Linked DNA regions of Homo sapiens. The protein of the gene in region 1 purifies or fractionates together with the protein of each later gene. This does not show direct contact. Each region holds a gene or a part of one and is shown in the gene's direction. Other genes may lie near its edges.

The links.
Region 2: the proteins of TPST2 (region 1) and INTS2 purify together in Homo sapiens (affinity purification with mass spectrometry; one large-scale study listed by BioGRID and IntAct). This does not show direct contact.
Region 3: the proteins of TPST2 (region 1) and DYM purify together in Homo sapiens (affinity purification with mass spectrometry; one large-scale study listed by BioGRID and IntAct). This does not show direct contact.
Region 4: the proteins of TPST2 (region 1) and ADPGK purify together in Homo sapiens (affinity purification with mass spectrometry; one large-scale study listed by BioGRID and IntAct). This does not show direct contact.
Region 5: the proteins of TPST2 (region 1) and RMND1 purify together in Homo sapiens (affinity purification with mass spectrometry; one large-scale study listed by BioGRID and IntAct). This does not show direct contact.
Region 6: the proteins of TPST2 (region 1) and ARHGAP29 purify together in Homo sapiens (co-immunoprecipitation; one large-scale study listed by IntAct). This does not show direct contact.
Region 7: the proteins of TPST2 (region 1) and KDM8 purify together in Homo sapiens (affinity purification with mass spectrometry; one large-scale study listed by BioGRID and IntAct). This does not show direct contact.

What each region holds. Positions count from the first base shown.
Region 1 is NC_000022.11:26,531,133-26,534,632, reverse strand, and holds part of TPST2 (protein-tyrosine sulfotransferase 2), read left to right. Parts: intron 1-1,887; coding exon 1,888-1,938; intron 1,939-3,500. UniProt on the Homo sapiens protein: Catalyzes the O-sulfation of tyrosine residues within acidic motifs of polypeptides, using 3'-phosphoadenylyl sulfate (PAPS) as cosubstrate.
Region 2 is NC_000017.11:61,893,483-61,896,982, reverse strand, and holds part of INTS2 (integrator complex subunit 2), read left to right. Parts: intron 1-1,599; coding exon 1,600-1,668; intron 1,669-3,083; coding exon 3,084-3,218; intron 3,219-3,500. UniProt on the Homo sapiens protein: Component of the integrator complex, a multiprotein complex that terminates RNA polymerase II (Pol II) transcription in the promoter-proximal region of genes.
Region 3 is NC_000018.10:49,377,146-49,380,645, reverse strand, and holds part of DYM (dymeclin), read left to right. Parts: intron 1-887; coding exon 888-981; intron 982-1,945; coding exon 1,946-2,079; intron 2,080-3,500. UniProt on the Homo sapiens protein: Necessary for correct organization of Golgi apparatus. Involved in bone development.
Region 4 is NC_000015.10:72,756,259-72,759,758, reverse strand, and holds part of ADPGK (ADP-dependent glucokinase isoform 4 precursor), read left to right. Parts: intron 1-1,469; coding exon of another isoform or gene 1,470-1,694; intron 1,695-3,311; coding exon 3,312-3,500. UniProt on the Homo sapiens protein: Catalyzes the phosphorylation of D-glucose to D-glucose 6-phosphate using ADP as the phosphate donor. GDP and CDP can replace ADP, but with reduced efficiency.
Region 5 is NC_000006.12:151,414,127-151,417,626, reverse strand, and holds part of RMND1 (required for meiotic nuclear division protein 1 homolog), read left to right. Parts: intron 1-227; coding exon 228-348; intron 349-355; exon of another isoform or gene 356-546; intron 547-2,078; exon of another isoform or gene 2,079-2,209; intron 2,210-3,500. UniProt on the Homo sapiens protein: Required for mitochondrial translation, possibly by coordinating the assembly or maintenance of the mitochondrial ribosome.
Region 6 is NC_000001.11:94,227,585-94,231,084, reverse strand, and holds part of ARHGAP29 (rho GTPase-activating protein 29), read left to right. Parts: intron 1-3,500. UniProt on the Homo sapiens protein: GTPase activator for the Rho-type GTPases by converting them to an inactive GDP-bound state. Has strong activity toward RHOA, and weaker activity toward RAC1 and CDC42. May act as a specific effector of RAP2A to regulate Rho.
Region 7 is NC_000016.10:27,206,526-27,210,025, forward strand, and holds part of KDM8 (bifunctional peptidase and arginyl-hydroxylase JMJD5), read left to right. Parts: intron 1-3,500. UniProt on the Homo sapiens protein: Bifunctional enzyme that acts both as an endopeptidase and 2-oxoglutarate-dependent monooxygenase.

The sequences.
Region 1 (3,500 bases):
CAGCCAAGGGCCCAGCAGTGGCTCCTCTGGGGTCTCCTTAAAAGGTGGCTCGCTGCCCCTGGCTTGCCCCAGGCTATGGGTCGGACGTTCCTGGAGTAAAGCCTGACTTTATGTATTTTATAAAACACAAATAATTTTCATGAGCACTGGTGGTTAACATCAACTCTTTGGAGCTTTTTGTGTTTGTTTATTTAAAATGGAAGCTGTCTCTCATTTTCATCCAAAGAGATTTCTTCCCTGGGGCGGTCAACAAGTCTTGGCAAGTGCTAGATCCCTGGTTTAGTTTTTGCCATAGCTTGGCTGTTACTGCAAAGAAAAGTCCTCTCACTAAGCCCTGTGAGTTTGCATGCATGCCTGTGTGCTTCTGTGAGTGCTGTGGACCCTGTGTGTTCCAATAATGGATCCTGGGGCTCAGTAAACACAGTGGCTAAAAGGACATCTATGCTGATGAAATCGTCTCTGCCTGCAGTGTCCCATACGGTAGCCACTAGCCATGTGTGGCCCCTGATTCTGTAACAGGAGGCTAGTCCAAAGTGAGAGGTCCTGTTAGGTGTAAAATACACACTAGATTTTGAAGGCTTAGGACAAAAAAGTATGTAACGTTTCTTATTAGTCACTTTTATATAAATTACATATTGAAATGTTAATATTTTACATAGGCTGGACATGATGGCTCATGTCTATAATCCTAGCACTTTTGGAGGCCAAGGCAGGCAGACTGCTTAGCCTAGGAGTTTGAGACCAGCCTGGGTAACATGGTGAAACCTCATCTCTACTAAAAATATTGAATATTAGCCAGGCATGGTGGCACGTGCCTATAGTCCCAGCTACTCAGAAGGCTGAGGTGGGAGAATCACCTGAGGCTGGGAAGTGGAGGCTGCAGTGAGCCGTGATCGCACCACTGCACTCCAGCTTGGGCTATGGGAGTGAGACCATGTCTCAATAGAAAAAAAAAAAAATTAGCTATATCAGGTTAAATAAAAGATATTGTTAGAATTAATCTCCCTTGTTTCATTTTATTTTAAAATGTGACTACTAGCGGAAAGGCCTGAAATGTTGTGGTTCTAACTTCAGGGCCTTTGCTCTGTTGCCTCTGCCTGGAGTGCTTTTTCTTCTGAGCTTAGCCTACCTATTTTTCCTTGTCGTTTGGGTCTCAGCTCAAAGGTTATCTATTTCAAGAGGCCCTTTTTATTTTTATTTATTCACTTTCTTAGAGACAGGGTCTCGCTCTGTCACTCAGGCTAGAGTGGAGTGATGTGATCATACTTCACTGCAGCCTCAACCTCCCGGGCTCAACCAATCCTCCAGCTGAGGCTGGAGTAGCTCCAGAGCAGCTGGGACGATAAGTGCATGCCACCATGCCCAGCTAATTTTTAATTTTTTAGAAATGGGGTTTCAGTGTGTTTCCCAGGCTGATCTCAAACTGCTGGACTCAAGTGATCCTCCTGCCTTGGCCTCCAGAAGTGCTGAGATTACAGGCATGAGTCACTGCGCCTGGCCCAAGAGTCCCCTCTTGACCACCCACTCAAAAGAAGCCCCCTGGTTACTCCTAATCCCACCTCTTTACTGTACTTTTTTCACAACAGTTCCCATGGTTTGCTATGTCCTTGTTTATCTGTGTTTATTTTTCTTGTATGTTATCTGGTGCCCCCTCTAGAATGGTAGCTCCAGGGGAACAGGAATTTCCATTATCTGGTTAACATCATGTCAACCAGACACAATGCTTAGAATAATGCCTAGAAGAAGAGGAGCTTAAGCAATGTTTGTTGGATGGAGGGATGGGTGGGTGGCGAGGTGGATGGGTGGATGACTGGATGTGTTGGGAATGACTAAATTTTATTTTTTGGCCATTTTCATAATAGTGATATTTCTTTTTCTCTTCCTTAGGTCTTGAAAGGGGACTATAAAACACCAGCCAATCTGAAAGGATATTTTCAGGTTAGAAACCCCAAGGGGAATTCCGAATTCTGTCTTTCTCAGCTATACCACCATCTGGCTGTATGCCCTTAGATGTGTCACTTCTCCACTCTGGTTGATGGTTTTCCCATTATAAAAAGGGGGATGTGAGCTGGCTGCCTGTAATCCCAGCACTTTGGGAGGCCAAGGCAGGCAGATCACGAGGTCAGGAGTTCAAGACCAGCCTGACCAAAACGGTGAAACCCCGTCTCTACTAAAAATACAAAAATTATCCGGGCGTAGTGGCACACACCTGTAATCCCAGCTACTTGGGAGGCTGAGGCAGGAGAATCGCTTGACCCTGGGAGGCAGAGGTCGCAGTGAGCTGAGATCACGCCGTTGCACTGTAGCCCGAGCGACAGAGCGAGACTCCATCTCAAAAAATAAAAATAAAAAATAAAGGGCTGTGGGGATGCGTGCTGGACCAGAGGGTCTCTAAGCACTGATCCAGCTGGGGCCACATCTCAGTGGCCCTTCTGCCAGGAAGCAGCCTCTCACTTCGTCTTCCGGCTTGAATGCAGTTGGAGGGACTTCGTGGGGACTTTTTCTTGGGCTTTCTTTCTTGTTGAGACTGGAGTGCAGTGGTGTGATCATGGCTCACTGCAGCCTCAATCTCCTGGGCTCAAGCAATCCTCTCACCTCAGCCCCTCAAGAAGCTGAGACTACAGACACACACCATCATGCCCGGCTAATTTTTGTGTTTTTTGTAGAGACAGGGTTTTGGCATGTTGTCCAAGCTTGAGTTGTATTATTTATAATAAACAGGTAGCAGTTAGTAAAGTGTTTTCCCTAGTGTCTTGTGAGCTGTTCTAGTGAATTATCAAACCAGAGTGGGGGTTGTGGGAACCTCCAGATTTGAAGTTGGCTGGGAAGAAGTGTGGATAGCCTGCGCACCCCATTGCAGCTGGCATCTAAAGTGGGGCAGTCGTGGAACTGGGCCCTTAATCTGTGGCAGCTGATGCTAAGTAAGTCTGGGAGCTGGTGTCAGAACTGAACTGAATTGTTGAACACCCAGTTGGTATCCAGATAATCAGAGAATTGGTCACTGATATTGGAAAGCACCCATAAGCCAATATCTGAAGGATTAAAACTAGGTCTGCCACACAAAGATCTGGATAGAAAAGGCTTCCCGGCAGAGGGAACTGTAAACGCCTGAAAGTGGGGAGTGTGGCCGAAACCTCTGGAGTGCGTATGCACTTTTGCATTCGTTGCAATTATATTTTTCTTTGTTTCTACCCCAATGTGATTTACAGGAATGTTCATTGCAATTTTCATGTTCAAACTGCCTTGTTTTGCTTTCTTAATATTTTCCTATCTTTTGAGTTTCACCGGCACCATTTTGGATGGCTACGTAGTGTTCTGTGGAATGCATGTGCTACCATTTACTAAACAGCTTCTTCAAGACCATTTCCAGTTTTTACAACATCCAGAATGACATTATGTGCACAGTGGAGGACAGTAGGGAGATGAGGGTTGGAAATAGAGGCTTGACAAAACTTATCTGCAGGGCAGCCCTCCTGAGCGTGGGGGTATGCCATTCCTTC
Region 2 (3,500 bases), on another chromosome or scaffold:
ATGTAAATACACACATAGGCACCCACATGTATCTCTTCATACACCTGTTGGATTATTTTCTTAGGATAAATTTCTAGAAGGTAATTGCTAAGGAAAAGTGTATGACTATGTTAAGGTGTTTCATGAGTACTGTCAGATTATCTTTTCGAAAGATTGTATCAGTTTAACTCTTACCGTTAGTAAGAACTACTGTTTTTCTAAACTTTCAACATGACTGAGCATTACTATTTTTTTTTAATCTTTGCAAATTTGGTTGATGAACAGTGGTATCACTTAGTTTGAATTTCTTTGATTACTAGTGAAACTTAGTATTTAAAATTTATGTGTTTTGGCTTGTTTATTTCTTTTGTGAAAAGCTGATCAGTATCCTAATTTTCCTGTAGGGACTTTGATTTATTTTTTTCTTTCACTGATTCAAAAGGAAAGATATGTCATTATGCCTTATACATCTTACTTCATATATTTCAAGACGTATATTTTACCCAGTATTGAAATTGGGATTCATTTTACAGTTGACATGTAATATGAAAGTGGTAGTGTTCCAACTCCTACTTTTTTCTTGAAAAGCTACTGTAATATTAAATCAGTGACATATCTTATAGTATCTTTAAAAGTGGAGAGTTCAATATGTTATAATTGACTTTTTCCAGTATTTTTTGCCATTTAACTTCGCCATGTGGAAATTATTATCATTATTATTTTTATGTAGTATATTAAATGTTTTTTTTTTGTTTTTTTTTTTTGAGATGGAGTCTTGCTCTGTCGCCCAGGCTAGAGTGCAGTGGTGCGATCTCGGCTCACTGCAAGCTCCGTCTCCCAGGTTCATGCCATTCTCCTGCCTCAGCCTCCCCAGCAGCTGGGACTACAGGCACATACCGCCACGCCCGGCTAATTTTTGTATTTTTAGTAGAGATGGGGTTTCACTGTGTTAGCCAGGATGGTGTCGATCTCCTGACCTTGTGATCTGCCCTCCTCGGCCTCCCAAAGTGCTGGGATTACAGGCGTGAACCACTGCACCTGGCTGTAAATGTTCTTTTTGTGTTTTCTATTTTGCTCTTATGCTTAGAAATGTTTTCCTTTCTTGGGTTTATATAAGTGGTCACTTATATTTTCTTCTAGTTTTTTTTGGTGGTTTCATGTTTTACATTTGAACATTTTAATCTACTTGGAGTTTCTTTTGGTGTATGGTGTGATATGTGCAAAAAGTGTATGTGTGTCTATCTGTACATATACATATATACATATATTTGTGTGTGTATATGTGCGTATATACAGACACAGACACACACATACACACACACACATATTTCTCTTGGCCTCACAGAGGGGCAGCTATCCTAGCTCCATGTAGTAAATAATCTGTTTCCCCCAACCGACTGAAAATGCCAATAATAGTATTTATTAAGTGCTTTTTATATTGGTTCTGTTTTTGAGTATTAACACTTTAATGTTGGGTTTGGGAAAGCACTTCTAAAACAGAGTAGAGTACTTGAACATTTGAACATTTATGTGTATCATAGCCATTTTAGATAAGTTCCCTAGAATAAATTGTGTTTCATATATTTTTACATGCTGTTGGAATTCTTTTGGTAATTTTAGATTGTAATTAAGCCAAGCTCCTTGAGCAGGATGAAGACAATCTTCACACAGGAAATTTTTACTGAGCAGGTATTTCTTTTTATTCTTAGGTACTTATTTAACTTTCTTTTACAATATTCTTTGGGAGAAAACTTGTGTGTCTTACCTTAAGAAAATAATATGGTCTTTTTTCTTTTTAAACTCATGATGATTTATTTCATCTTTGAAACTTTCTTAAAGAATAATCCATTTAAAATACACTTTTAAAACTAGTCATAACATACCAAGGCATCTTTTGAATTTATGTATTTTTGGAGACTTTGAGTAGATACTTAGGAGAATACTCTTAGATGTTGCTGGTAGGGCATCTCAAGGGGTAATTGTTTTAATGTGTCTGGAGAAAGATAAAATGAAGTCCTATTTAAACCTTTAGGCTGTAAAATTCATTTCTAACTAGATTACAGGCTAGAGTCTAAATTTCTTATACTTAACATGTTCTTCTTTAGCCTTAGCACTTTTGTCCATGGATAAGCATAAGGATTTTTTTCATTTCTTTTTTTTTTTTATCTCACTTTGTCACCCAGGCTAGTATACAGTGGTATGGTCATAGCTTACTGCAACCTCTGCCTCCTGGGTTGGAGCAATTCTCCTGCCTCAGCCTCCCAAGTAGCTAGGATTAGAGGTGCACACCACCACGCCTAATTTTTGTATTTTTAGTAGAGATGGGGTTTTACCACGTTGACCAGGCTGGTCTTGAACTCCTGACCTCAGGTGATCCACCCACCTCAGCCTCCCAGAGTGCTGGGGTTACAGGCATGAGCCACTGCACCCGGCCAGTTGTTGCTTTTTTGTGGCTATTAATATCTTTATTTCTATATTTTACTATCCCTCCCACCCTCAACACGCATATGCACATATACTCCTGAATTACAAGTAGTCACACAGCATGTGGGAGAATCATAAGTTATTTTTTGTCTTTAAATTTGAACCAATTGGAAGACAACTTTGAAGAGGGTCTTTAAAAGACGATTAGAGCCTATGCATGACATATTGAGAATAAATATTTCTGTTTATATTTATGTGGTGCTTTATAGTTCATATGATGTTTTTCCAAAAAGAATATTTTCCCCCCATAACAATGCTTTGAGGCAGGTATGGCAGTGTCCTGTTTTGTAGATGTGAAAAAGATTCAGAAGATAAATGACTTCTTCAAAGTCATTGAGCCCAGATTGTATGCTTCAAAATTTTATTTTATTTTTTTACCTTATCACACCACTGTGTATGTATCTATGTTTATAAACAAAAAATTAGGGAATTATATAAATCCCTAAATGTACATTTCCTCAGCATTCAAAGACAATTAAAACATGTAATAATTTATTTTCATCATTCATTTCTAGGGACCACACTTGTATTAGGTGTTGACAGTCTACTTACTAATCTCTCTTTCAAAATAATTTTATATTTAGTTCTATTATATTACTAATGCTATTTTTCCCTTTTAGGTTGTCACAGCTCATGCAGTTCGGGTCCCTGTCACCAGCAACCTGAGTGCCAACATTACTGGATTTTTGCCTATTCATTGTATTTACCAGCTTCTCAGGAGCCGTTCCTTTACCAAGCACAAAGTGTCAATAAAAGTATGCCCCTACAAATAAAACAAAATAAAAGCATGCCCCTACATTTTTATATATATATTTTTTTTCTTTTGAGATGGAGTCTTGCTCAGTCACCCAGGTTGGAGTGCAGTGGTGCAGTCTTGGCTCACTGTAACCTCTGCCTCCTGGGTTAAAGTGATTCTCCTGCCTCAACCTCCCAGGTAGCTGGGACTACAGGTGTGTGCCACCATGCCCGGCTAATTTTTGTATTTTTAGTAGAGACAGGGTTTCACCGTGTTGGCTGGCTGGTGTCGAACTCCTGAC
Region 3 (3,500 bases), on another chromosome or scaffold:
AGTCCAATTTCTTGATTATAGAGGTTGCTTCAACCTAGCAGTTTAAAGTCAAAGATTTGAGCCAGTTGATAAGGATGTTTCCTTGAGCAAGTAACAACCTCCAGGTGAGGATCGGTGAAATGCAAGTGATACTAGTGCTTTTCCTGGAGGGTTGGTGTGAGGATTAAATGAGTTAATGCATGTAAAGCACCTACTCTATGTTGTTCAGCATATGTTAGCTGTTGTTTCTTTTACAGATGAGAAAACTGAGGTTGGAGAAGTACAGTGATTTGTCTGAGATTCAGTATTCAGTTAATTATAGACCTGGATCTAGAAACTAAATCTTCTGATTCCTGATACAGTTGCTGAAATGCCCATCGTTTAAAGTTAAAAAAAAATTCTTTAAAGTTTTGTCTGGTCAAATAGCTCCCCTTCTAGCCACACTGCTTTGTTGATATGTTTTCTTAATTTTTCATTCAAATGATTTGTAATCTGAAGAGTGTTTTAGATTTAATAAACTTTTATAGTTTATTATATTCTATATACTGGAGACATAGATAATCAATTTTTGAGTTTTTAAAAATCTCCTTTCTAGAGAAAGATTTAGTGTGTAAGTTGAATGTGTCTATTAACTATTTTTTCCTTTATGATTTTGGATTCTGAGATAAGATGGCTACTTGTACTGTTTCTATCATTTTCATTTTGCAAATCAGTTTTTGATGTTCAGAATTAAGACCAAGAGCAGCAGTTTCTCTCATTGCTTAGTTCTCTAATTAGGTATGAAATTAACAGTAAAGTTGGTCACTGAGCAATTTTAATATGACATTTGGTTTTATAAATGTTATGATAAGCTCACTTTGATTTTAGTTCTTAAATTTAACTTTTTAAAACCTTTTCTTCTCTTGCAGTTGAAAACAATCCTCGAACAGGAAATCTTGGTGCACTAATTAAGGTCTTCCTTTCTAGAACCAAAGAACTAAAACTTTCAGCAGAATGTCAGAAGTAAGCTGGCTAATTAAACCATGTTTGCTTTATATTTAACAATGTGAATTTTAGTTTTCATTTATTGATGGAAATGGACTGTGGTCTTTTGAAAATCTCTGTGAAGGAATTATTCTCATTATTAAGAAAAAAAGGTAGAGAGGTTTTAGGTTAGTGTCTAAGTCACTGGGGTGAGATTATAGATTCGGGAATCTGATTTCAGCTTTTTAGACAATCTTTAGATTATATTCTTTAAGAAGGTGAATAATGATGTAATTATCGTTAAGAAGGTAATTCCCCTCCCCCCCATTATCACTGCTGCTGCTATCTAGTTTAAATGATGACTTAGTCTGAGTTTTATTTCATTCTACATCTGTTGCAGTTATTTCCGTTATATTCTTTACATCAATGGAAGGTTAACTTTTTATGCACTGAAGCATTTTTCAAAACCATGTTTGGATGTCAGTCTCTGAAAAGATTAAAATATTTTGCATTGTCTTGCTTATAAACAAATTACATTGAATCCAATAAAGTTTTTCTTGGGAGTTCATGGTCATTAATACAAATAAAAAGTATTTTACCGTGCTGCTGGCAATGCCTCGTCGAAAATTTTGGTTACATATTTGCATATATTCTTTTTATGTTACCACAATTTTTTAAATTTTTTGGTAGCTTTCTTCTCTTTTAATCGCATGTACGTGGTATACCTATTAAGAACAAAGAACAGTCATTCCTACAGTCATCAGTAAAGATTTTTATTAAGTAGATTCACTATGTAAAGTACATGGAATGAACTATGAAGTAAAACATAATATCACTGGTACAATGAAATAAATCATGAGCCATTAAAAGATATGGACATTATCCTAATATTACCAATAGGATGGACAAAACGGTTGTCAAATCAGGAAGAAATCATGAACTAGAAATAAACTATGGTGCTTATGTTTAAATATTGATTCTTGTATGATTTTGGTCTTTCTAGCCACATCTTCATTTGGCAGACACACAATGCTTTGTTTATTATTTGCTGTTTGCTGAAAGTGTTCATCTGTCAGATGTCAGAGGAGGAATTACAACTTCATTTTACTTATGAAGAAAAATCTCCTGGCAATTACAGTAAGTATTGTTTTTAAAGATGTTCTGGATATATCATGTGTAACATTTAAGGATAAAATTTCAGGAATAAAAGTATGATTTTGAAAATTCCAGTTATCCTTATAATTTTCATTTTAAAATGAACTTATACTGTCATTTTTTCTTTTTCTGTGTTAATTTAAATGAGTCAAGACTCAAGCGTTTTTTGTTTTTGTTTTTCGTTTTAAATAAGAAAGCTGGTGGGGTTGAAGCTTTCATTTATTTTGACTTTCATGCATGTGGATGAAGAAGAAAGTAATATAAAAAATAAAACTCACACAAATATGTATTTCTTTCAGAAAACAGAGGTGTCAGTTTTAAATATCATTGCCAAGTCAATATATTATTAAGGGAGCCAACTAGTCAGATTTTATGGTAAAGGTTACTTTCATAGCGTGCAGCAATAGCTTCTGGGTCTGAGTGTCTTTGGGACTACGACACTTTATCAGAAGTAACATTTTCAAGGACAGTTTTATGATGCCAAAGTGTCTCATCTTTTTCTGAAGATACAGGGAAAGATTACCCTTCACACAATCTTTCCTTTCTGAGGGCAAGGCAGTGTTGCCCCATAGTTTTCCGAGTTCTGTTTTCAAAATAGATCTCTGCCCTCATCAGGCTGACAGCGTCACCTGTGTGATTCAAGGTCATATGTTAACATCTCTTGTGGGAACAGGTATTGGGAGAGAACTTTGAGATGTGTATACTTTTAATGGAGGTCTGTGTGCTATGTGGATTTCATGCATATGTATAATAACACTTTCATATACCTAGGAGTAATTTTTCACTGTGGTTTCAACTGTGTTGCTAAATACGTGTTTTTAAATGTCAAAGTCAAATATTGACAAAGGGAAACAAACGTATAAAAGAGTTACTGTTCATCCAGGTCAACATCACAATGTACTGATTTTTCAGTATATCCATGTCTATGGGGAATATTTCTTAAATTCTATTATAGAATTTTTATTTATATTTTTATTTTTATTTTTTTTGAGATGGAGTCTCGCTCTGTTGCCCAGGCTGGAATGCAGTGGTGCGATCTTGGCTCACTGCAGCCTCTGCCTCCTGAGTTCAAGCAATTCTCCTGTCTCAGCCTCCTGAGTAGCTGGGACTACAGGTGCATTCCACCAAGCCCAGCTAATTTTTGTATTTTTAGTAGAGATGGGGTTTCAGCATGTTGGCCAGGCTGATCTTGAACTCCTGACCTCAAGTGATCCACCCACCTTGGCCTTCCAAAGTGCTGGGATTACAGGCATGAGCCACCGTGCCCGGCCTAGAATTTTTAAAAACAATATTATGGGGAAGTAGAAAAGATTCTGTGGAAAGTTAACCTTTTGTGCATTCAAGCATTTCTTAAAACTATTTTTAGATGGCAAAAATCTTATGGAAATTCTGGTTATATCATT
Region 4 (3,500 bases), on another chromosome or scaffold:
CTGTGTATTTCCTGCTGTAATTTTCCCTCTGCTCAGAACTCAGACTCTTGAGTTTCTGATTCAACACATTGTTAATACACATTAAAGACTCAAGCATCTAAACAGACTAATTGGTACCTTAAAGCAGCACTTAATACTCTTCAGTGAACTACTTCCAAGTCAATTAAGAGAATCTTCTCTACTAGAGTAATTAACTTTAACATAAGATATGAACTATGTTATTTCTTGAGAATTATGCCTTTCTCCAGGTAGAAAAAAGAGTTGTAACATGTTCTGGTTCTCTTTCGGGTGCTTACTAGAATCAGTTGGGAATTAAAGAAGGATAGGGTCTGAAAATTAGGGACACAGCGTTGACGTAGGCAATTCATACTTAATGCTACACAAGTTTTTGAGTTTCTCAGCTTTAGTTTTCCCAAATGGGAAGTAAGAGTAATAGTTTTTACTGCCTGATCATTGTGGTAAGGATTAAGAGATTGGTTGGTGTGCGGAAACATTGTGAGCAGCTTGGATGAAAAGATGACCTGGCCGCACGTGGTGGCTCATGCCTGTAATCCCAGAACTTTGTGAGGCTGAAGCGGGTGGATCACAAGGTCAGGAGTTCAAGACCAGCCTGGCCAAGATGGTGAAACCCCGTCTCTACTAAAAATACAAAAATTAGCCAGGTGTGGAGGCGGGCGCCTATAATCCCAGCTACTCAGTAGGCTGAGGCAGAGAATTGCTTGAGCCTGGGAGGCGGAGGTTGCAGTGAACTGAGATTGCACCACTGCACTCCAGTCTGGGCAACAGAGCGAGACTCCGTCTCAAAAAATAATAATAATAAATAAATAAAAGAATGACCTGACTGTGGACTGGAAGGGTCTGGAATTGCTAAAGATGAGCCCCTGAGGTATTGCTGCCATGAGTTCCAGATTCGTGTCAGTTTTTTTGGCACCCACAGCAGGAACTGGGGACCTTTGTGATTCCTGGTTTGTCATTTTTCCTGGTGACTACAGAGTGGAGAGTCTTACGTCTTCAGCAAGACTTTGATGTTGTATTGGACAGCTGTGCCTCGTATGTAGTTAAGGAGACAGCACAGTTCACCGCACAAAGAGAGTGTCTCCATCCTTGGGTTTATAAGCTTCACACTTCAGTTTTTCTTTCCTATGCCTCTTCTGCATACAAAGCAGTGGACTTCCATTAAACTTTGTGAGGTGACATTTTCCTAGGTCCAAGGAGGGAGCCTAGTCTAGTGGCAGTAGCCCTGGGCTCAGCTCTCTCAACAGAAATCCATTCCCAGCTTGTCTCTGACCTCAATAGGGAAATTCCAAGGGATTTGTCCATTTTTTTTTCCACATTCTCTCTTACCAGATCTCCCCAGAGAAGCCCATTGTCAGGCTTGGGCTGGGAATCCAGTGAGTCACTACGCAGAGGTTTTGCTGACTTACTGGCTGAGGGCAGGATGATACATTGAGAAGAGATTGCTTACAGGAATGAATACAACACTTTGTGAGGAAAGAGGGGCGCTAACTACCATTACAGGCAGAATTAGATCCATTTGCATCTGCCCCCTGCATGGCCTCTCCAACGGGGCCATGAATATGCTGGAGGTGTTTGTGTCTAGCCTGGAGGAGTTTCAGCCAGACCTGGTGGTCCTTTCTGGATTGCACATGATGGAGGGACAAAGCAAGGAGCTCCAGAGGAAGAGACTCTTGGAGGTAATGGCACTGTTACAGAATTTCACAGATCTCAGCTGGTGGTTTTCTTCAGGTTCCAGCCTCTCTTGGCATCTGCTGCCTTGTTTCCTGTGGAAACAGCAAGCAGCTCTGCACGGTTCTTCTCATCCTTGCCTTGCAGAAGAGCCTGTTTATTTTTGCCTCTGTCACTTCCTGAAGAAATCAGTGTATTTTCAATACAGTGTGGCTCCTTTCTCCTAGGTTCAGTTAGGTCGTGTTTCCTAGCAGTGTCACTATTCAAGGGTTGAGTCCACGTCTTGCTCTCTGGAGAATGTCAATGTAATGTATTTTTCCCATCGTACAGAGTCTTTGTTGATTTGCAAAATGTTGGATTTGGGGTTCATACCCATATTTTTTGTTGTCATGGGCATTTAGGTCATCAGTCTGTTCTCTTATTTGCTTGTTCTTTTGTTAATTCATTCCCATGGCTATATGCCAGACACAGCATGATGCAGAAGGAATACGACAGAGGATGACACAGGCCCTGCCCTCAGCTCACAGTTTACTGCCAGAGATAGACACTTGGAAAAAGTAATTGCAGGCCGGGCATGGTGGCTCACGCCTGTAATCCCAGCACTTTGGGAGGCTAAGGCAGGCAGATCACCTGAGGTCAGGAGTTTAAGACCAGCCTGGCCAACATGGTGAAACTCCGTCTCTACTGAAAATACAAAAATTAGCCAGGCGTGGTGGCGGGTACCTGTAATCCCAGCTACTCGGGAGGCTGAGGCAGGAGAATCGCTTGAACCTGGGAGGCAGAGGTTGCAGTGAGCTGAGGTCGCGCCATTGCGCTCCAACCTGGGCAACAGAGTGAAACTCCATCTCAGAAGAAAAAAAAAAAAAAAAAAGGAAAAAAGAAAAAGGAATTGCAAAATCATGTGCCTCAGTCCTGTATTAGGGTACAGTGGTGGCCCCAGAAAGGAGGTAATCAAGTCTGCTTAGGGGTGGTAGGATTAGGAAAGGCTTCATGTTTAGGGAGGAACTAGCACTTGAACTTGGGTCTTTAAACAGTCATTCCTCTAAAGCAACTCACATAGAAGCAACTGGAGCAGCTAGATAGTCTGATCCTTTGGATCAGGTGCCCAGAAACCACTGATGGGCAGCAGGGAAGAGGAGATGCAGTGAGCTTGGCTGTTGGGAAGAAATTCAGCCTGCTTAAGTTCCAACTGAATGAAAGATGCTCAGGGCAATGCTGTGAGGAAGAATGTGCTTTAAACAATGACAGCCTATACTGTCTGCAGGGCGTGCGTGCTGCACACTGTATGCTGGTATTTGGAAGTCATGCTGCCATTCTGTACTGTCTCTCCTGTGTTTGAGAGCTCAAGTAGGGCTCTCCTGGGACTCAGGGGGAGCTAATTACCTTGAAAAAGGCATATAGCACCCATACTATGTTTCTGTTTCTTGGCTGGGTTTGGGTTTAGGTTTTTGGTTTGTTTCTTGCAGTGCCATGCTGACCTTAGGCCATTGTTGCTGGGGTCTCCTCAGCCAGAAACCAGCCTGCTTGGAGCCAAGGCTCCTGTGAGGTGCCTGAAAGTGCCCCCACAGCTAGGAGACCTAAAGCCTCTTCCTTTTCTTCCCATTGTGTTGACTGGGTTTTTCCAGGGGAGGAGTGGGGCCAGTTAAAAGCTCCCCATGCCAACCGATTCATCTTCTCTCACGACCTCTCCAACGGGGCCATGAATATGCTGGAGGTGTTTGTGTCTAGCCTGGAGGAGTTTCAGCCAGACCTGGTGGTCCTCTCTGGATTGCACATGATGGAGGGACAAAGCAAGGAGCTCCAGAGGAAGAGAC
Region 5 (3,500 bases), on another chromosome or scaffold:
TCCAGCTACATGGGAGGCTGAGGCAGGAGAACAGCTTGAGCCCAGGAGTTCAGTTTGCAGTGAGTTGTGATCACACCACTGCACTCCATCCCGGGTAACATAGCAAGACCCTCTCTCTTACCAAAAAAAAAAAAGTTTTCATAAAGCACTATGTAAATATTAAATACAATAGAAACAATGATTTTTAATTCAAGATAAATAAAAAGTTATAATTTTCCTTTTTAAAGGCACCGTATAAACTTGAGTTCAGACTTCCTGATTACTCCTGATTTCTACTGGGACAGAGAAAACCTGGAAGGACTTTACGATAAAACGTGTCAATTCCTTAGCATTGGCCGAAGAGTTAAGGTACGTATTTTGCACTTCTAATGAGAGAAAAAGACACGTTGTCGCCTATAAGTTGAATATGTTTAACTGCTTGCAGAGAAATATCTTGTTTGACTTCCATTCAAATCTCTTTATATTTCCCCTTCTTGTCCTCTGTACAGTCACTTCAATTTTTTGTGTCAAAGGATCTTCTGATATTAGCTCTACAGACTAGATAAGGTTGGTGAATAAGATGAGAGTTTGGAAGCCTAATGGTCCATCAGTAAGTTCTTGTCAAGTTTCAAGCAAGAGTTCATGACTGCTTCTGATCTGTCATGGTGACAGTGAGAATAGAAATAAATTTAAGAAAGAATCATGTAAGACAAATCAAGTGATGGGTAATAAGAGGCCATGGAGAAGAAAGAATAAAGGATGACTGATGTTTGCCTGGAGGTGACAAGTAGAAAGGTGGAAAAACAATAATGAGAGGTCAGAGAGGGGAGGTGACAGACTAAATCTAAGATATGCTGAGATTAGAGTAGCAACAAGATATCCAATTAGCTCCGTCATGCAGGCATTTAGAAGGGCAGAAGCAAAGTCGGGAAAAGAGACGTGTATTAAGAAATCCCAGCACTTTGGGAGGCTGAGGCGGATGGATCACCTGAGGTTGGGAGTTTGAGACCAGCCTGGCCAACATGGCGAAACCCTGTCTCTACTAAAAATACAAAAATTAGCCAGGCATGGTGGCATTCTCCTATAGTCCGAGCTACTCGAGAGGCTGAGGCAGGAGAATCACTTGAACCCAGGAGGTGGAGGTTGCAGTGAGCCAAGGTCGAGCCAGTGCACTCCAGCCTGGATGACAGAGTGAGACTCCGTCTCAAAAAAAAAAAAAAAAAAAAAGCTGTAGTGATGGAGGTAGACCACATGGGGAAAGAGCATAGAAAACAGAAAATTGACATTAGTACAATGTGTGCACATAGTTCTGTGACATTTTGCCACATCTATAGATCCATGCAACCACATGATCAAGACACAAAACTGTGCCAGGTGCGGTGGCTCATGCCTGTAACCCCAGCACTTTGTGAGGCTAGAGGTGGGCAGATCACTTGAGGTCAAGAGTTCGAGACCTGCCTGGCCAATATGGTAAAACGCTGTCTCTACTAAAAATACAAAAATTAGCTGGGTGTGGTGGCGCGTGCCTGTAGTCCCAGCTACTCGGGAGGCTGAGGCAGCAGAATCGCTTGAACCCAGGAAGTGGAGGTTGCAGTGAGCTGAGGTCATGCCATTGCACTCCAGCCTGGGCGTTGCAGCGAGACTCCATCTCAAAAAAAACAAAACAAAAAGACACAAAACTGTTTTATCACTTTTCCTCATGCTACCCTGTATAGTCACACTGCCCTCCCCCTACCCGGACTGTCCCTAACCCCTGGCAGTGAGTAATCTCTTCTCCATCTCCATAATTTTGTCATTTTGAGGATGTTATATAGATAGTCATACAGTATGTGACTTTTTTTTTTTTTTTTTTTTTGAGACGGAGTCTTGCTCTGTTGCCCAGGCTGGAGTGCAGTGGCTCAATCTTGGCTCATTGCAAGCTCTGCCTCCCGGGTTCACGCCATTCTCCTGCCTCAGCCTCCTGAGTAGGTGGGACTACAGGCACCCGCCACCAAGCCCAGCTAATTTTTTTTTGTATTTTTAGTAGAGATGGGGTTTCACTGTGTTTAGCCAGGATGGTCTCGATCTGTATGTGACTTTTTAACTGGCTTTTTTCACAGAGCATAATGCCCTCAACTTGGATCCATCCAAATTGTTGCTTGTATCAAAGTTCCTGTCTTCCTGTGGTTACTGAAACAATTTTTTGGTATTTCATTTTGATGTTACTTTTTAATATATCTCGTTGCATAGATATTTAGTAGTTGCTCTGGTTATTACATCTTACGTATATAACTTATTACAATCTACTGATTTCAACATCTTGCAGATTAAATGAAGTATAGAATCTTTATTTCCCTAATGGATGATTGGATGCAGAAAAAAAAAAAGAATTCTTATTTCTTTTATATTCCTTTACCCTTCCGTATTTATAATTTTCTTAACTATTCTTCTGCAGACATAGAAAACTTCATCAGATAATGTTATAATTTTTGCTTCAACCATCAAACATAATTTAGAAAACTAAGAAAAGCAAAGTCTGTTGTATGTGCCCATGTTTTTATTCTTTCTGTTCTTTTCTCCTTCTGATCTTCTAAGATTTCTTTTACTGTTTTTTTTTTTCAAGAACTTTATTTAGCCATTCTTTTAAGGTAAGTCTAGTGAGACAAATTCTCTTAGTTTGTCTTCATCTGAGAGTGTATTAATTTTCTCTTCATTCTTGCAGGATATTTTCCTAGAAATAGGATTCTAGGTAGACAGTTTTCTTTCTTTCAGCACCTGAAAAATGCCATGCCACTTCCTTCTGACCTCCATGGTTTCTGACGGAAATCTGCCATAATTCTATGACATCTACATTTTATCTTTTATTATCATTTCACAAGGTCTTTGAGGCTCTGTTCACTTCTTTTCCAGTATATTTTGTCTCTGTTAAGATTGGGTAATGTCCTTTGTTTCATCTTCTAGTTGATTGATTCCTTCCTCTGTTACATTCGTTCTGCTGCCCAACATTGAGTTTATTTCATTTATTATATTTTTCAGTTCTAAAATTTCCATGTTTTTTTATTTGTATCTTCTGTTTCTTTGCAGAGACTTCCTGCTTTTTCGTTTGTTTCAAATGTGTTCAGAATTGCTTGTTGAATCATTTTTATGATGGTTGCTCTAACATCATCTAATAATACCTAACCTCAGATACCTCTTGATATTAGTGTCTACTGATTGTCTTTTCTGATTCCCTCCAACTAATTTTAATACCTCCAGTTTCCCTCATTGCCTCAAGTGTTCTGGCTTGATATACAAGGTCCTTCCTATTGTTTCTGTTTTTCAATCATATTTCCTACCAATCCCCACATTCACCTTGTATCACATCAAAAATAAGTGATTAGCCTGGGAAACACAATGAGACCTCATTTCTACTAACCTTTTTTTTAAAAAAATTAGCCAGGTATAATGGCATGTGCCTGTAGTCTCAGCTACCCTGGGAGGTTGAGGCAGGAGGATTGCTTTAGCCCAGGAGTTTGAGGCTGCAGTGAGCCATGATCACGCCA
Region 6 (3,500 bases), on another chromosome or scaffold:
CATTGATTGGTCTTAAATAAGCTGACTAATGTTTATAATTTACATTGTTGACACTGTTACCTAAATTCACCTTTCCACATTTTAGATGAAGTTTTGGTATCTAAAATGACTGCATTTTTTTTTTTTAACAAAAATCAGACTTAATTCTGTTTTGCTGATCTGTAACATCTTGAATTAAGGGCTAATCACAGAATTCTGTCTAGTTAGAAATGAATAATGGAGCATGAGACTCTGTTCCTCTAAAGTAAAAGATTGTATATCTCTGACTTGTTCTTAGTACCTGTCTTTCAATGTTTAGTGCCTCTTAGGTCTAAATTTGATGGCAAGGATAATAAATAGTTACAAAAACAGCTCCTATTCTTCTATGATAAATGGCAGTTTCATTTCCATATTCATAATGGTATGTCTAGATATAAAAATGAAGATTCTCAGTGTTATTTATATGAGACCTCTTGGGGCTTTATAGAAATTTGTAAGATTTCAATAAATATTTCTATGTATATATATAAGTTAAATACTTATTTTCTGATGGACATTTTGAAAAACCAAAATTGTATCTTGTGCTTGTACTAAATTTAAGAGTTAATTTCTAATCTGTTATTTTCAGGTTGAAATGCCCAAAATGACTGGAATTGAAGCCTCAAAGTTTTAGTATTTGAGTTTTCCTTAAAACAACAATCACATAAGTGATTCTTTTGAGAATGTATACATATTAGAAAAGTTGTTCATATTCCCATTCATTTTAATAGCTTGATTTTGAAGTCTGATTGTGGATGATTAAATGGCAGTAAAGTTACCTAAAGTTATTGTGGAAAGATATCCTAACTACATTAAGTATTATAATGGTAGTAAATTTACCAAAATGATAAATTTGCCATTTATTTAAAGAAACATAGCTTTGTAATAACAATTTGTTCTTAACTAGGTTAATTTTTTAAATTTATAAACAATAAAATGTATACTTCTTGATATGCAGTTCATTAACTGGATTGATTTTTAAGGTGAAATTTAAAGTGATGTATTAGTTGACAAGTCATTTACCTTGATTTAAGGTGTAAAACCTGATTTTATTTAATGCCTCAATTTAAATGCATTTTTATTAGTATAAATAAGATTTTTAGTTAAGATTTCTATTTGTTTTTAGTTATTTTCCTTAAAAGATTTATATCTCTTAAAAATCTTCATTTTACATAATTATCCTTGTGTCACAGATTTAAAATGATAGTAATTTAAAACAAGCTGGACTACTTATCTCCAAAAAAAATTTTTATAAGAGTTTTAAATTGTGAGCAGACACTTCAGAGAATACTGAAGGTCAACTGAAAGTTGACCCTAAGTGAGAAAAGAAAAAAATAAGATACAGAAAGAGACTACCCCCTGAGGTAAAGGGATATGTATGGAAATACATACACTGAAATTTAATTTTAAAAATTCATAAGGACATTATCAAAAAGTTTGCAATTTATGGCCAGGAAATTAATTACAAAATAGATAAACTGTTTTTTTGATAACCAACTCAGTAGTATGCAGTGGCCAGAGGATGTTCATTATTTACCTTTGGGTTGATTTTTTGTCTTTGAAATATCGTTATCAAAATCTAGAAATAAACTAGTTAATTTGAGTTGATGGAACCTTTTTGTTTTATAAACATAAATGGACCTCATTATAAAAGATAAGGAAAATGCTACATAATATTGTGCTTGTTTTTAATTTTGATGATTTTCAGCTTAGAGTATCAGACTATTCCTTATTTACTTAATAAAAGTATTACAAAGATCTCATGAGATGTAATCTTTAGGAAAGGTAAAATGTTTAAAATGCTCTAACTATTTAAGATGGTATTATTACATGTATCCCTATAGTCATGAGCCCTGCTTTTTGTCTCTGGGTATTGAGAAATATCCCTGGACTTCTTTTCTGAGTTATCACCACAACGTTAAAGTGTGGCCAGACAGCAAAGAGCCATTTCATTCACTGTTTTTCTTTTAGAGTGGAAGAGCCTTGTCAGTAATTTCTCAGTAGCCCTCCCAATATTTTGTGTATTGTCTCCTTAAGAGGAAGATGCCATATTTTTGGCATTGTTTATTACCTTTTAATTCACGTTTGTTAAGCTAAAAAGGCAGCTCTTAAGAATAAAGAATGTAGATATACAATTAAATCATCTTTTGGTTTAGTCAGAATACATTTTTTCTGTAATAACTTTTATCTGTTAATACCTTTATTACTAACTGAAGCACTAATGTGCAGTCACTTGACTTTTGCCGCAGTTGTTTAATCATAGGTTGAGGCTAGTCTTAGATAAACAGCTTTGTGATTGGTTTATGGCCACATTTTACTTTCCCCAAGTAGTTAGAAATGATGTATAATTGTATATGGCGCTTTTCATTTTACAGAGTACTTTGTCATACAAACAAGTTTAATCACCCAGGCCCCTCAAAGGCAGGTACCTTTAGCTCCGTTTCACAGATGAGATGTATGTATAACTTTTGATTTCATCAATGTCTTATTGCTGATAAATAATGGCCAGGTTATATGGTTTGGTTAAATTGGTAGTAAAGGATGGCAGCAAAAGCTCTGAAAAGAGAATCAGAATCTAGGTTCTAGGCCTAGTTCTACTGACTAGCTTTGGAATATGGCTTAATTCATTTAATTTTTTGTTAAGAATGAGGCACTTGTACCAGATGCTATCAGTTTTACGAATCTGTGATTCAAAATTTGATTAGAGTTGGAGATTATACATTGTTCTGAATGTTGGCAGTTTATTCCTAAGAAGACAGCTAAGTATTTGTTTTCAAATTATATGAAAACAAATTAATGAAAATTTCCCAAGTGAGAATATGAAGCTCATATTGTAATCGTCATTGAGGAACTGATTAGAAAAAATATAAATGTCTGCCAAAGAGCTCTGTACTCCCAACAGGGTTAAGATACATATACGGTTTATCTCTAATTTTCTAATTTACAAATTAAAATAGAGAGCTTAATGTGGAAGATTAGAGGGCTGAAAATATTCTATTCTTGCTGGGGTAAGTTAAGTGACAGAGTTTGGTAATTCTCTTTCCACTACTTAACCTCCAGGAGGAGGTTACCTTGTAGTCTTATACAAGTAGCAGATGTGGAATTTGAAGTTTTAGTTTTTTTATCCAGTGTCATTAAGGTACATTAGGAGTAATTACAAGGTAAATGTTCTATCTTATATGAAAATGCTGAAGGCACTCAGTTATGCATATGCATGTTGTGTTTAATTATAACACTGTAGATTAATATATGTGCAGTGTAAGTACCAATTCAGGTTTATGGTTTCCTCCCTGTGGAATAACGTGTTCTAAATTCTAAATAACAGATTCATAAGTGCTTTTCAAGTTTATGTAATAATTTTTAAAGTCTGCCATTGTGACATACCTCCCCATTTTCATGTGGAATATCACTCAAGGAAGCTAAAATCTGGGAATGTGGAAAATGTAAAGGCCTTTTAATTGGGCTAGAAAGAATAGTATAAA
Region 7 (3,500 bases), on another chromosome or scaffold:
CCTCCCAAAGTGCTAGGATGACAGGCGTGAGCGATGCACGTGGCCTTAATATAAGACTTTATAAACAGCAATTCAGTGAGGAGTTCTGGGAAGCCAATCAATAAAGCCAGGCCATAAGGCTACTCTGGCTAGTCCTTTCCTCTAGAAAACCTCTTGATACAACAAGAAGCCTTTTTATCAGACCAGTATATGGGAAATGCCAGAAGGCTGATGAGCCTGGACCTGAGGCCATTCAGAAAGGCAGTGACCTGTGGCTCGCACCTGACCTTCCCAGGAGGGCCATCTCAAGTGGTTGGTGGTGTGAAGGCTGCTTCTCATAGCCCATGAGGCCAGTGACCCTGGAAGATTGTTTCATACAGCCAGCAAGAGAGTGTTTCCCCAGCCAGACCAAGACTCCTTCTGTAAGGCCATTTTGCATGGCTAACAGGAGCCAATGTGAGGCTGCTCCCAGCGGGGTAGATGGACACAACAAACAATTCTTTCCTGGCACAATGAAGAAACCACAGATCGATTTGTAAAACTAAGACAAAATCTGACTTCACCTGGTCCTCAGACAAGCCCCCATCTATAGGAAGGCCAGTTTTTAAAACAAGTTACAAGGGCCGGGCGTGGTGGCTCACACCTGTAATCCCGGCACTTTAGGAGGCTGAGGTGGGTGGATCACTTGTGGTCAGGAGTTGGAGACCAGCCTGGCCAACATGGCGAAACCCCGTCTCTACTAAAAATACAAAAATTAGTCGGGCGTGATGGCATGCGTGCCTGTGGTCCCAGCTACTCAGAGGCTGAGGCAGGAGAATCACTTGAACCTGGGAGGTGGAGTTTGCAGTGAGCCGAGATCGCATCACTGCACTCCAGACTGGGTGACAGAGCAAGACTCCATCTCACAAAACTGCTTTGGAAGACTGCTTCCTATACCAGGATGTGGCTGTTTGATATGGTAACTACATAAAAGGCCAAATCATGAGAGGTTTGGGGAAGCCTATGCAACAAGGCAGAAGACTGATGCGGCCAGAATGCCACTTCACCATGCTGCCAACATAAGGCCTTGTAGGAGGCTATAGTTTTATTTTTTGAAACAGGGTCTCACTCTGTCACCCAGATGGGAGTGCAGAGGCACAAACACAGTTCACTTGCAGCCTTAAACTCCTGAGCTCAAGCAATCTTCCTGCTTCAGCTCCCGGAGTAGCTGGGGCTACAGGTGTGTGCCACCATGACCAGCTAACTAATTTTTTAATTGTTTTTAGAGACAGGGTCTTTACATGTTGCCCAGGCTGGTCTCGAATTCTTGGGCTCAAGCAGTCCTCCTGTTTCAGACTCCCGAGTAGCTGGGATTATAGGTGCCCTGCTGGGGGATAGTGTATAATAATCTTGAGGCCTTTGGGGAGGCCATTTCAAGTGGCTTATACAGAGGCAATCTGAAAAGCCATTTTGAAAACAAACTTATACAGCCATCCTGAAGCCTCTGTCTCTGGAAAACCATCATATATTGTCAACGTAAGTATCTCTGAAGGCCTTTTGATAAGGCCGTTCATTGAAGAACTCTGCATTAAAGAATAATCATAAGGCTATTTCATGTGGCCAAGAGCAGATAGTTTTGTACAGCCAACTCACAGTATTAGGAGGCCATCTTTCCCAGAAGGCTGTGTCCATTGGCCTTCAACATGAGGTCTCCAAGGCCGATTTGCAAAGTAGCAGATAGGCCGCCTATGAAGACCAAACATGAGGCCACCCTGGGAGGCCAGGTGACAAAGCAGACACGGGGCCACTGGGGGAACCTGGCTACAAAGCCGCACACGTGAGGCCACCTTGAGAAGCTGGCTTGGTAAGGCTGATAGGCGCCCTGTGAGGGGCCGTTTTATAAGGTCACCCTGAAACACCAATTTACAAAGCCCGTAATCTGCATTGCAGAGAACAGGTTTATAGCCCATTTGAAACCCTCTGGGAGGCTGTTTTCTAAGGCCATCAAGAGACAGGTTTACAAAGCTGGTACATAGAGCCCCAGTGGAAGCCAGTTTTATAGTAGGGCAATAAATGGTCTCCTGGGAGGCCTTTCCACTGGCCTTTATGAGAAGCCAGGATATGAGGCCCCTGAGGTCTTTTGGATGCTCAAGATGAGACTTCTCCATGTTGCTCTATAAGATTCATGTAAGCCACACACGGGATGAGCCAGGAGGCCACCCAGGGAGGCCAGGGATGGGCCCATGTGGTGTCTTGTGCTGGCCTAGTGGATAAGTCCATGCTGGAAATTGGACTGTGAAACGCTCCAAGAAGGCTGTGAATGAGGCCAACACAAGCCTTCTAGGAGGCTAGAGATAGAACCCACCCTGGCAGGCTGGGGCTCTCTGAGCCCTACCATACCCTGAGCTTGCTAGAAAGAAAGTTCATTGTGAACCAAGAATGGAAATGAACTCATTATAAGCTCAGCCCTGTGGATACAAAGTCCAAAGAGCTCACCCTTGAAGGCAATGAGTGTTCTGGGCAGACACTGCCACTTACTGTGTAGTTTGGCACAAATTGCTTAACCTCGAAATCTCAGTTTATTCATCTGTAAAACTCCCATCATAGGATTGCAAGGGACGTGTTAATCTATGTCAAGCATGCAGCATTGACATGGCGCACAGGAGAGGGTGCTGAGATCAGCCAGAATTTAAGCCCTGCTTCTGCACAAATGATTGACCGTAGGCCTTGGGGCAAGTCACTTCATTTTTGTTTTTTTGTTTTAATTTGAGTCAGGATCTTGCTCTGTCACCCAGGCTGGTGGCATGATCTCGGCTTACTGCAACCTTTGCCCCCAGGCTTAAGTGATCCCACCACCTTTAATCTCCTGAGTAGCTGGGACCACAGGCATGTACCGCCGTGCCCAACTAATTTTTGTATTTTTTGTAGAGACGGCGTCTTGCCATGTTGGCCAGGCTGGTCTTGAATTCCTGAGCTCAAGTGATCCAATTGCCTCGGCCTCCCAAAGTGCTGGGATTACAGGCGTGAGCCACCATGCCGGCCTTCTCGAATACTTTTCAAAGCCTGGCACTCCTGAGTGACTGCCATGAGGCAGACTCTGCTTTTAGGCTCTGGGAAACGTAGGGGAATGAGCTACGTTCTTGCCCTGGTGGAGCTGGCAGTGCAGTGTTGGATAGACACACGTGTAAGCAGGTGTTTTCATACATCCTGACGAGTACTGTAAGAGAAGCTCAAGGGCTGCAGGAACACAGAACACTGTTGGAGAGTCTTGGCAGGCCTCACATAGGGATATTTAAGATGGGCTTTAAAGGTTGGGTAGGAGTTTGCCAGGCAGCGGAGGGGTATGGGAGGCACTGCAGATGAGGACAATACACGTTCCTTTCTGAACAGACGTTTATCCAGTGCTTGCTGAGTACCAGGTGTTGCGCCAGGCCCTGAAGATACAGTGGTGACCCCAGACAGATGAGGGCCCTCCCCTCCAGAGCTTCTGCCCAACAGAGAAGACTGCTGTTGAAAAATCCTCGCAGATGAGATGCAGGAAG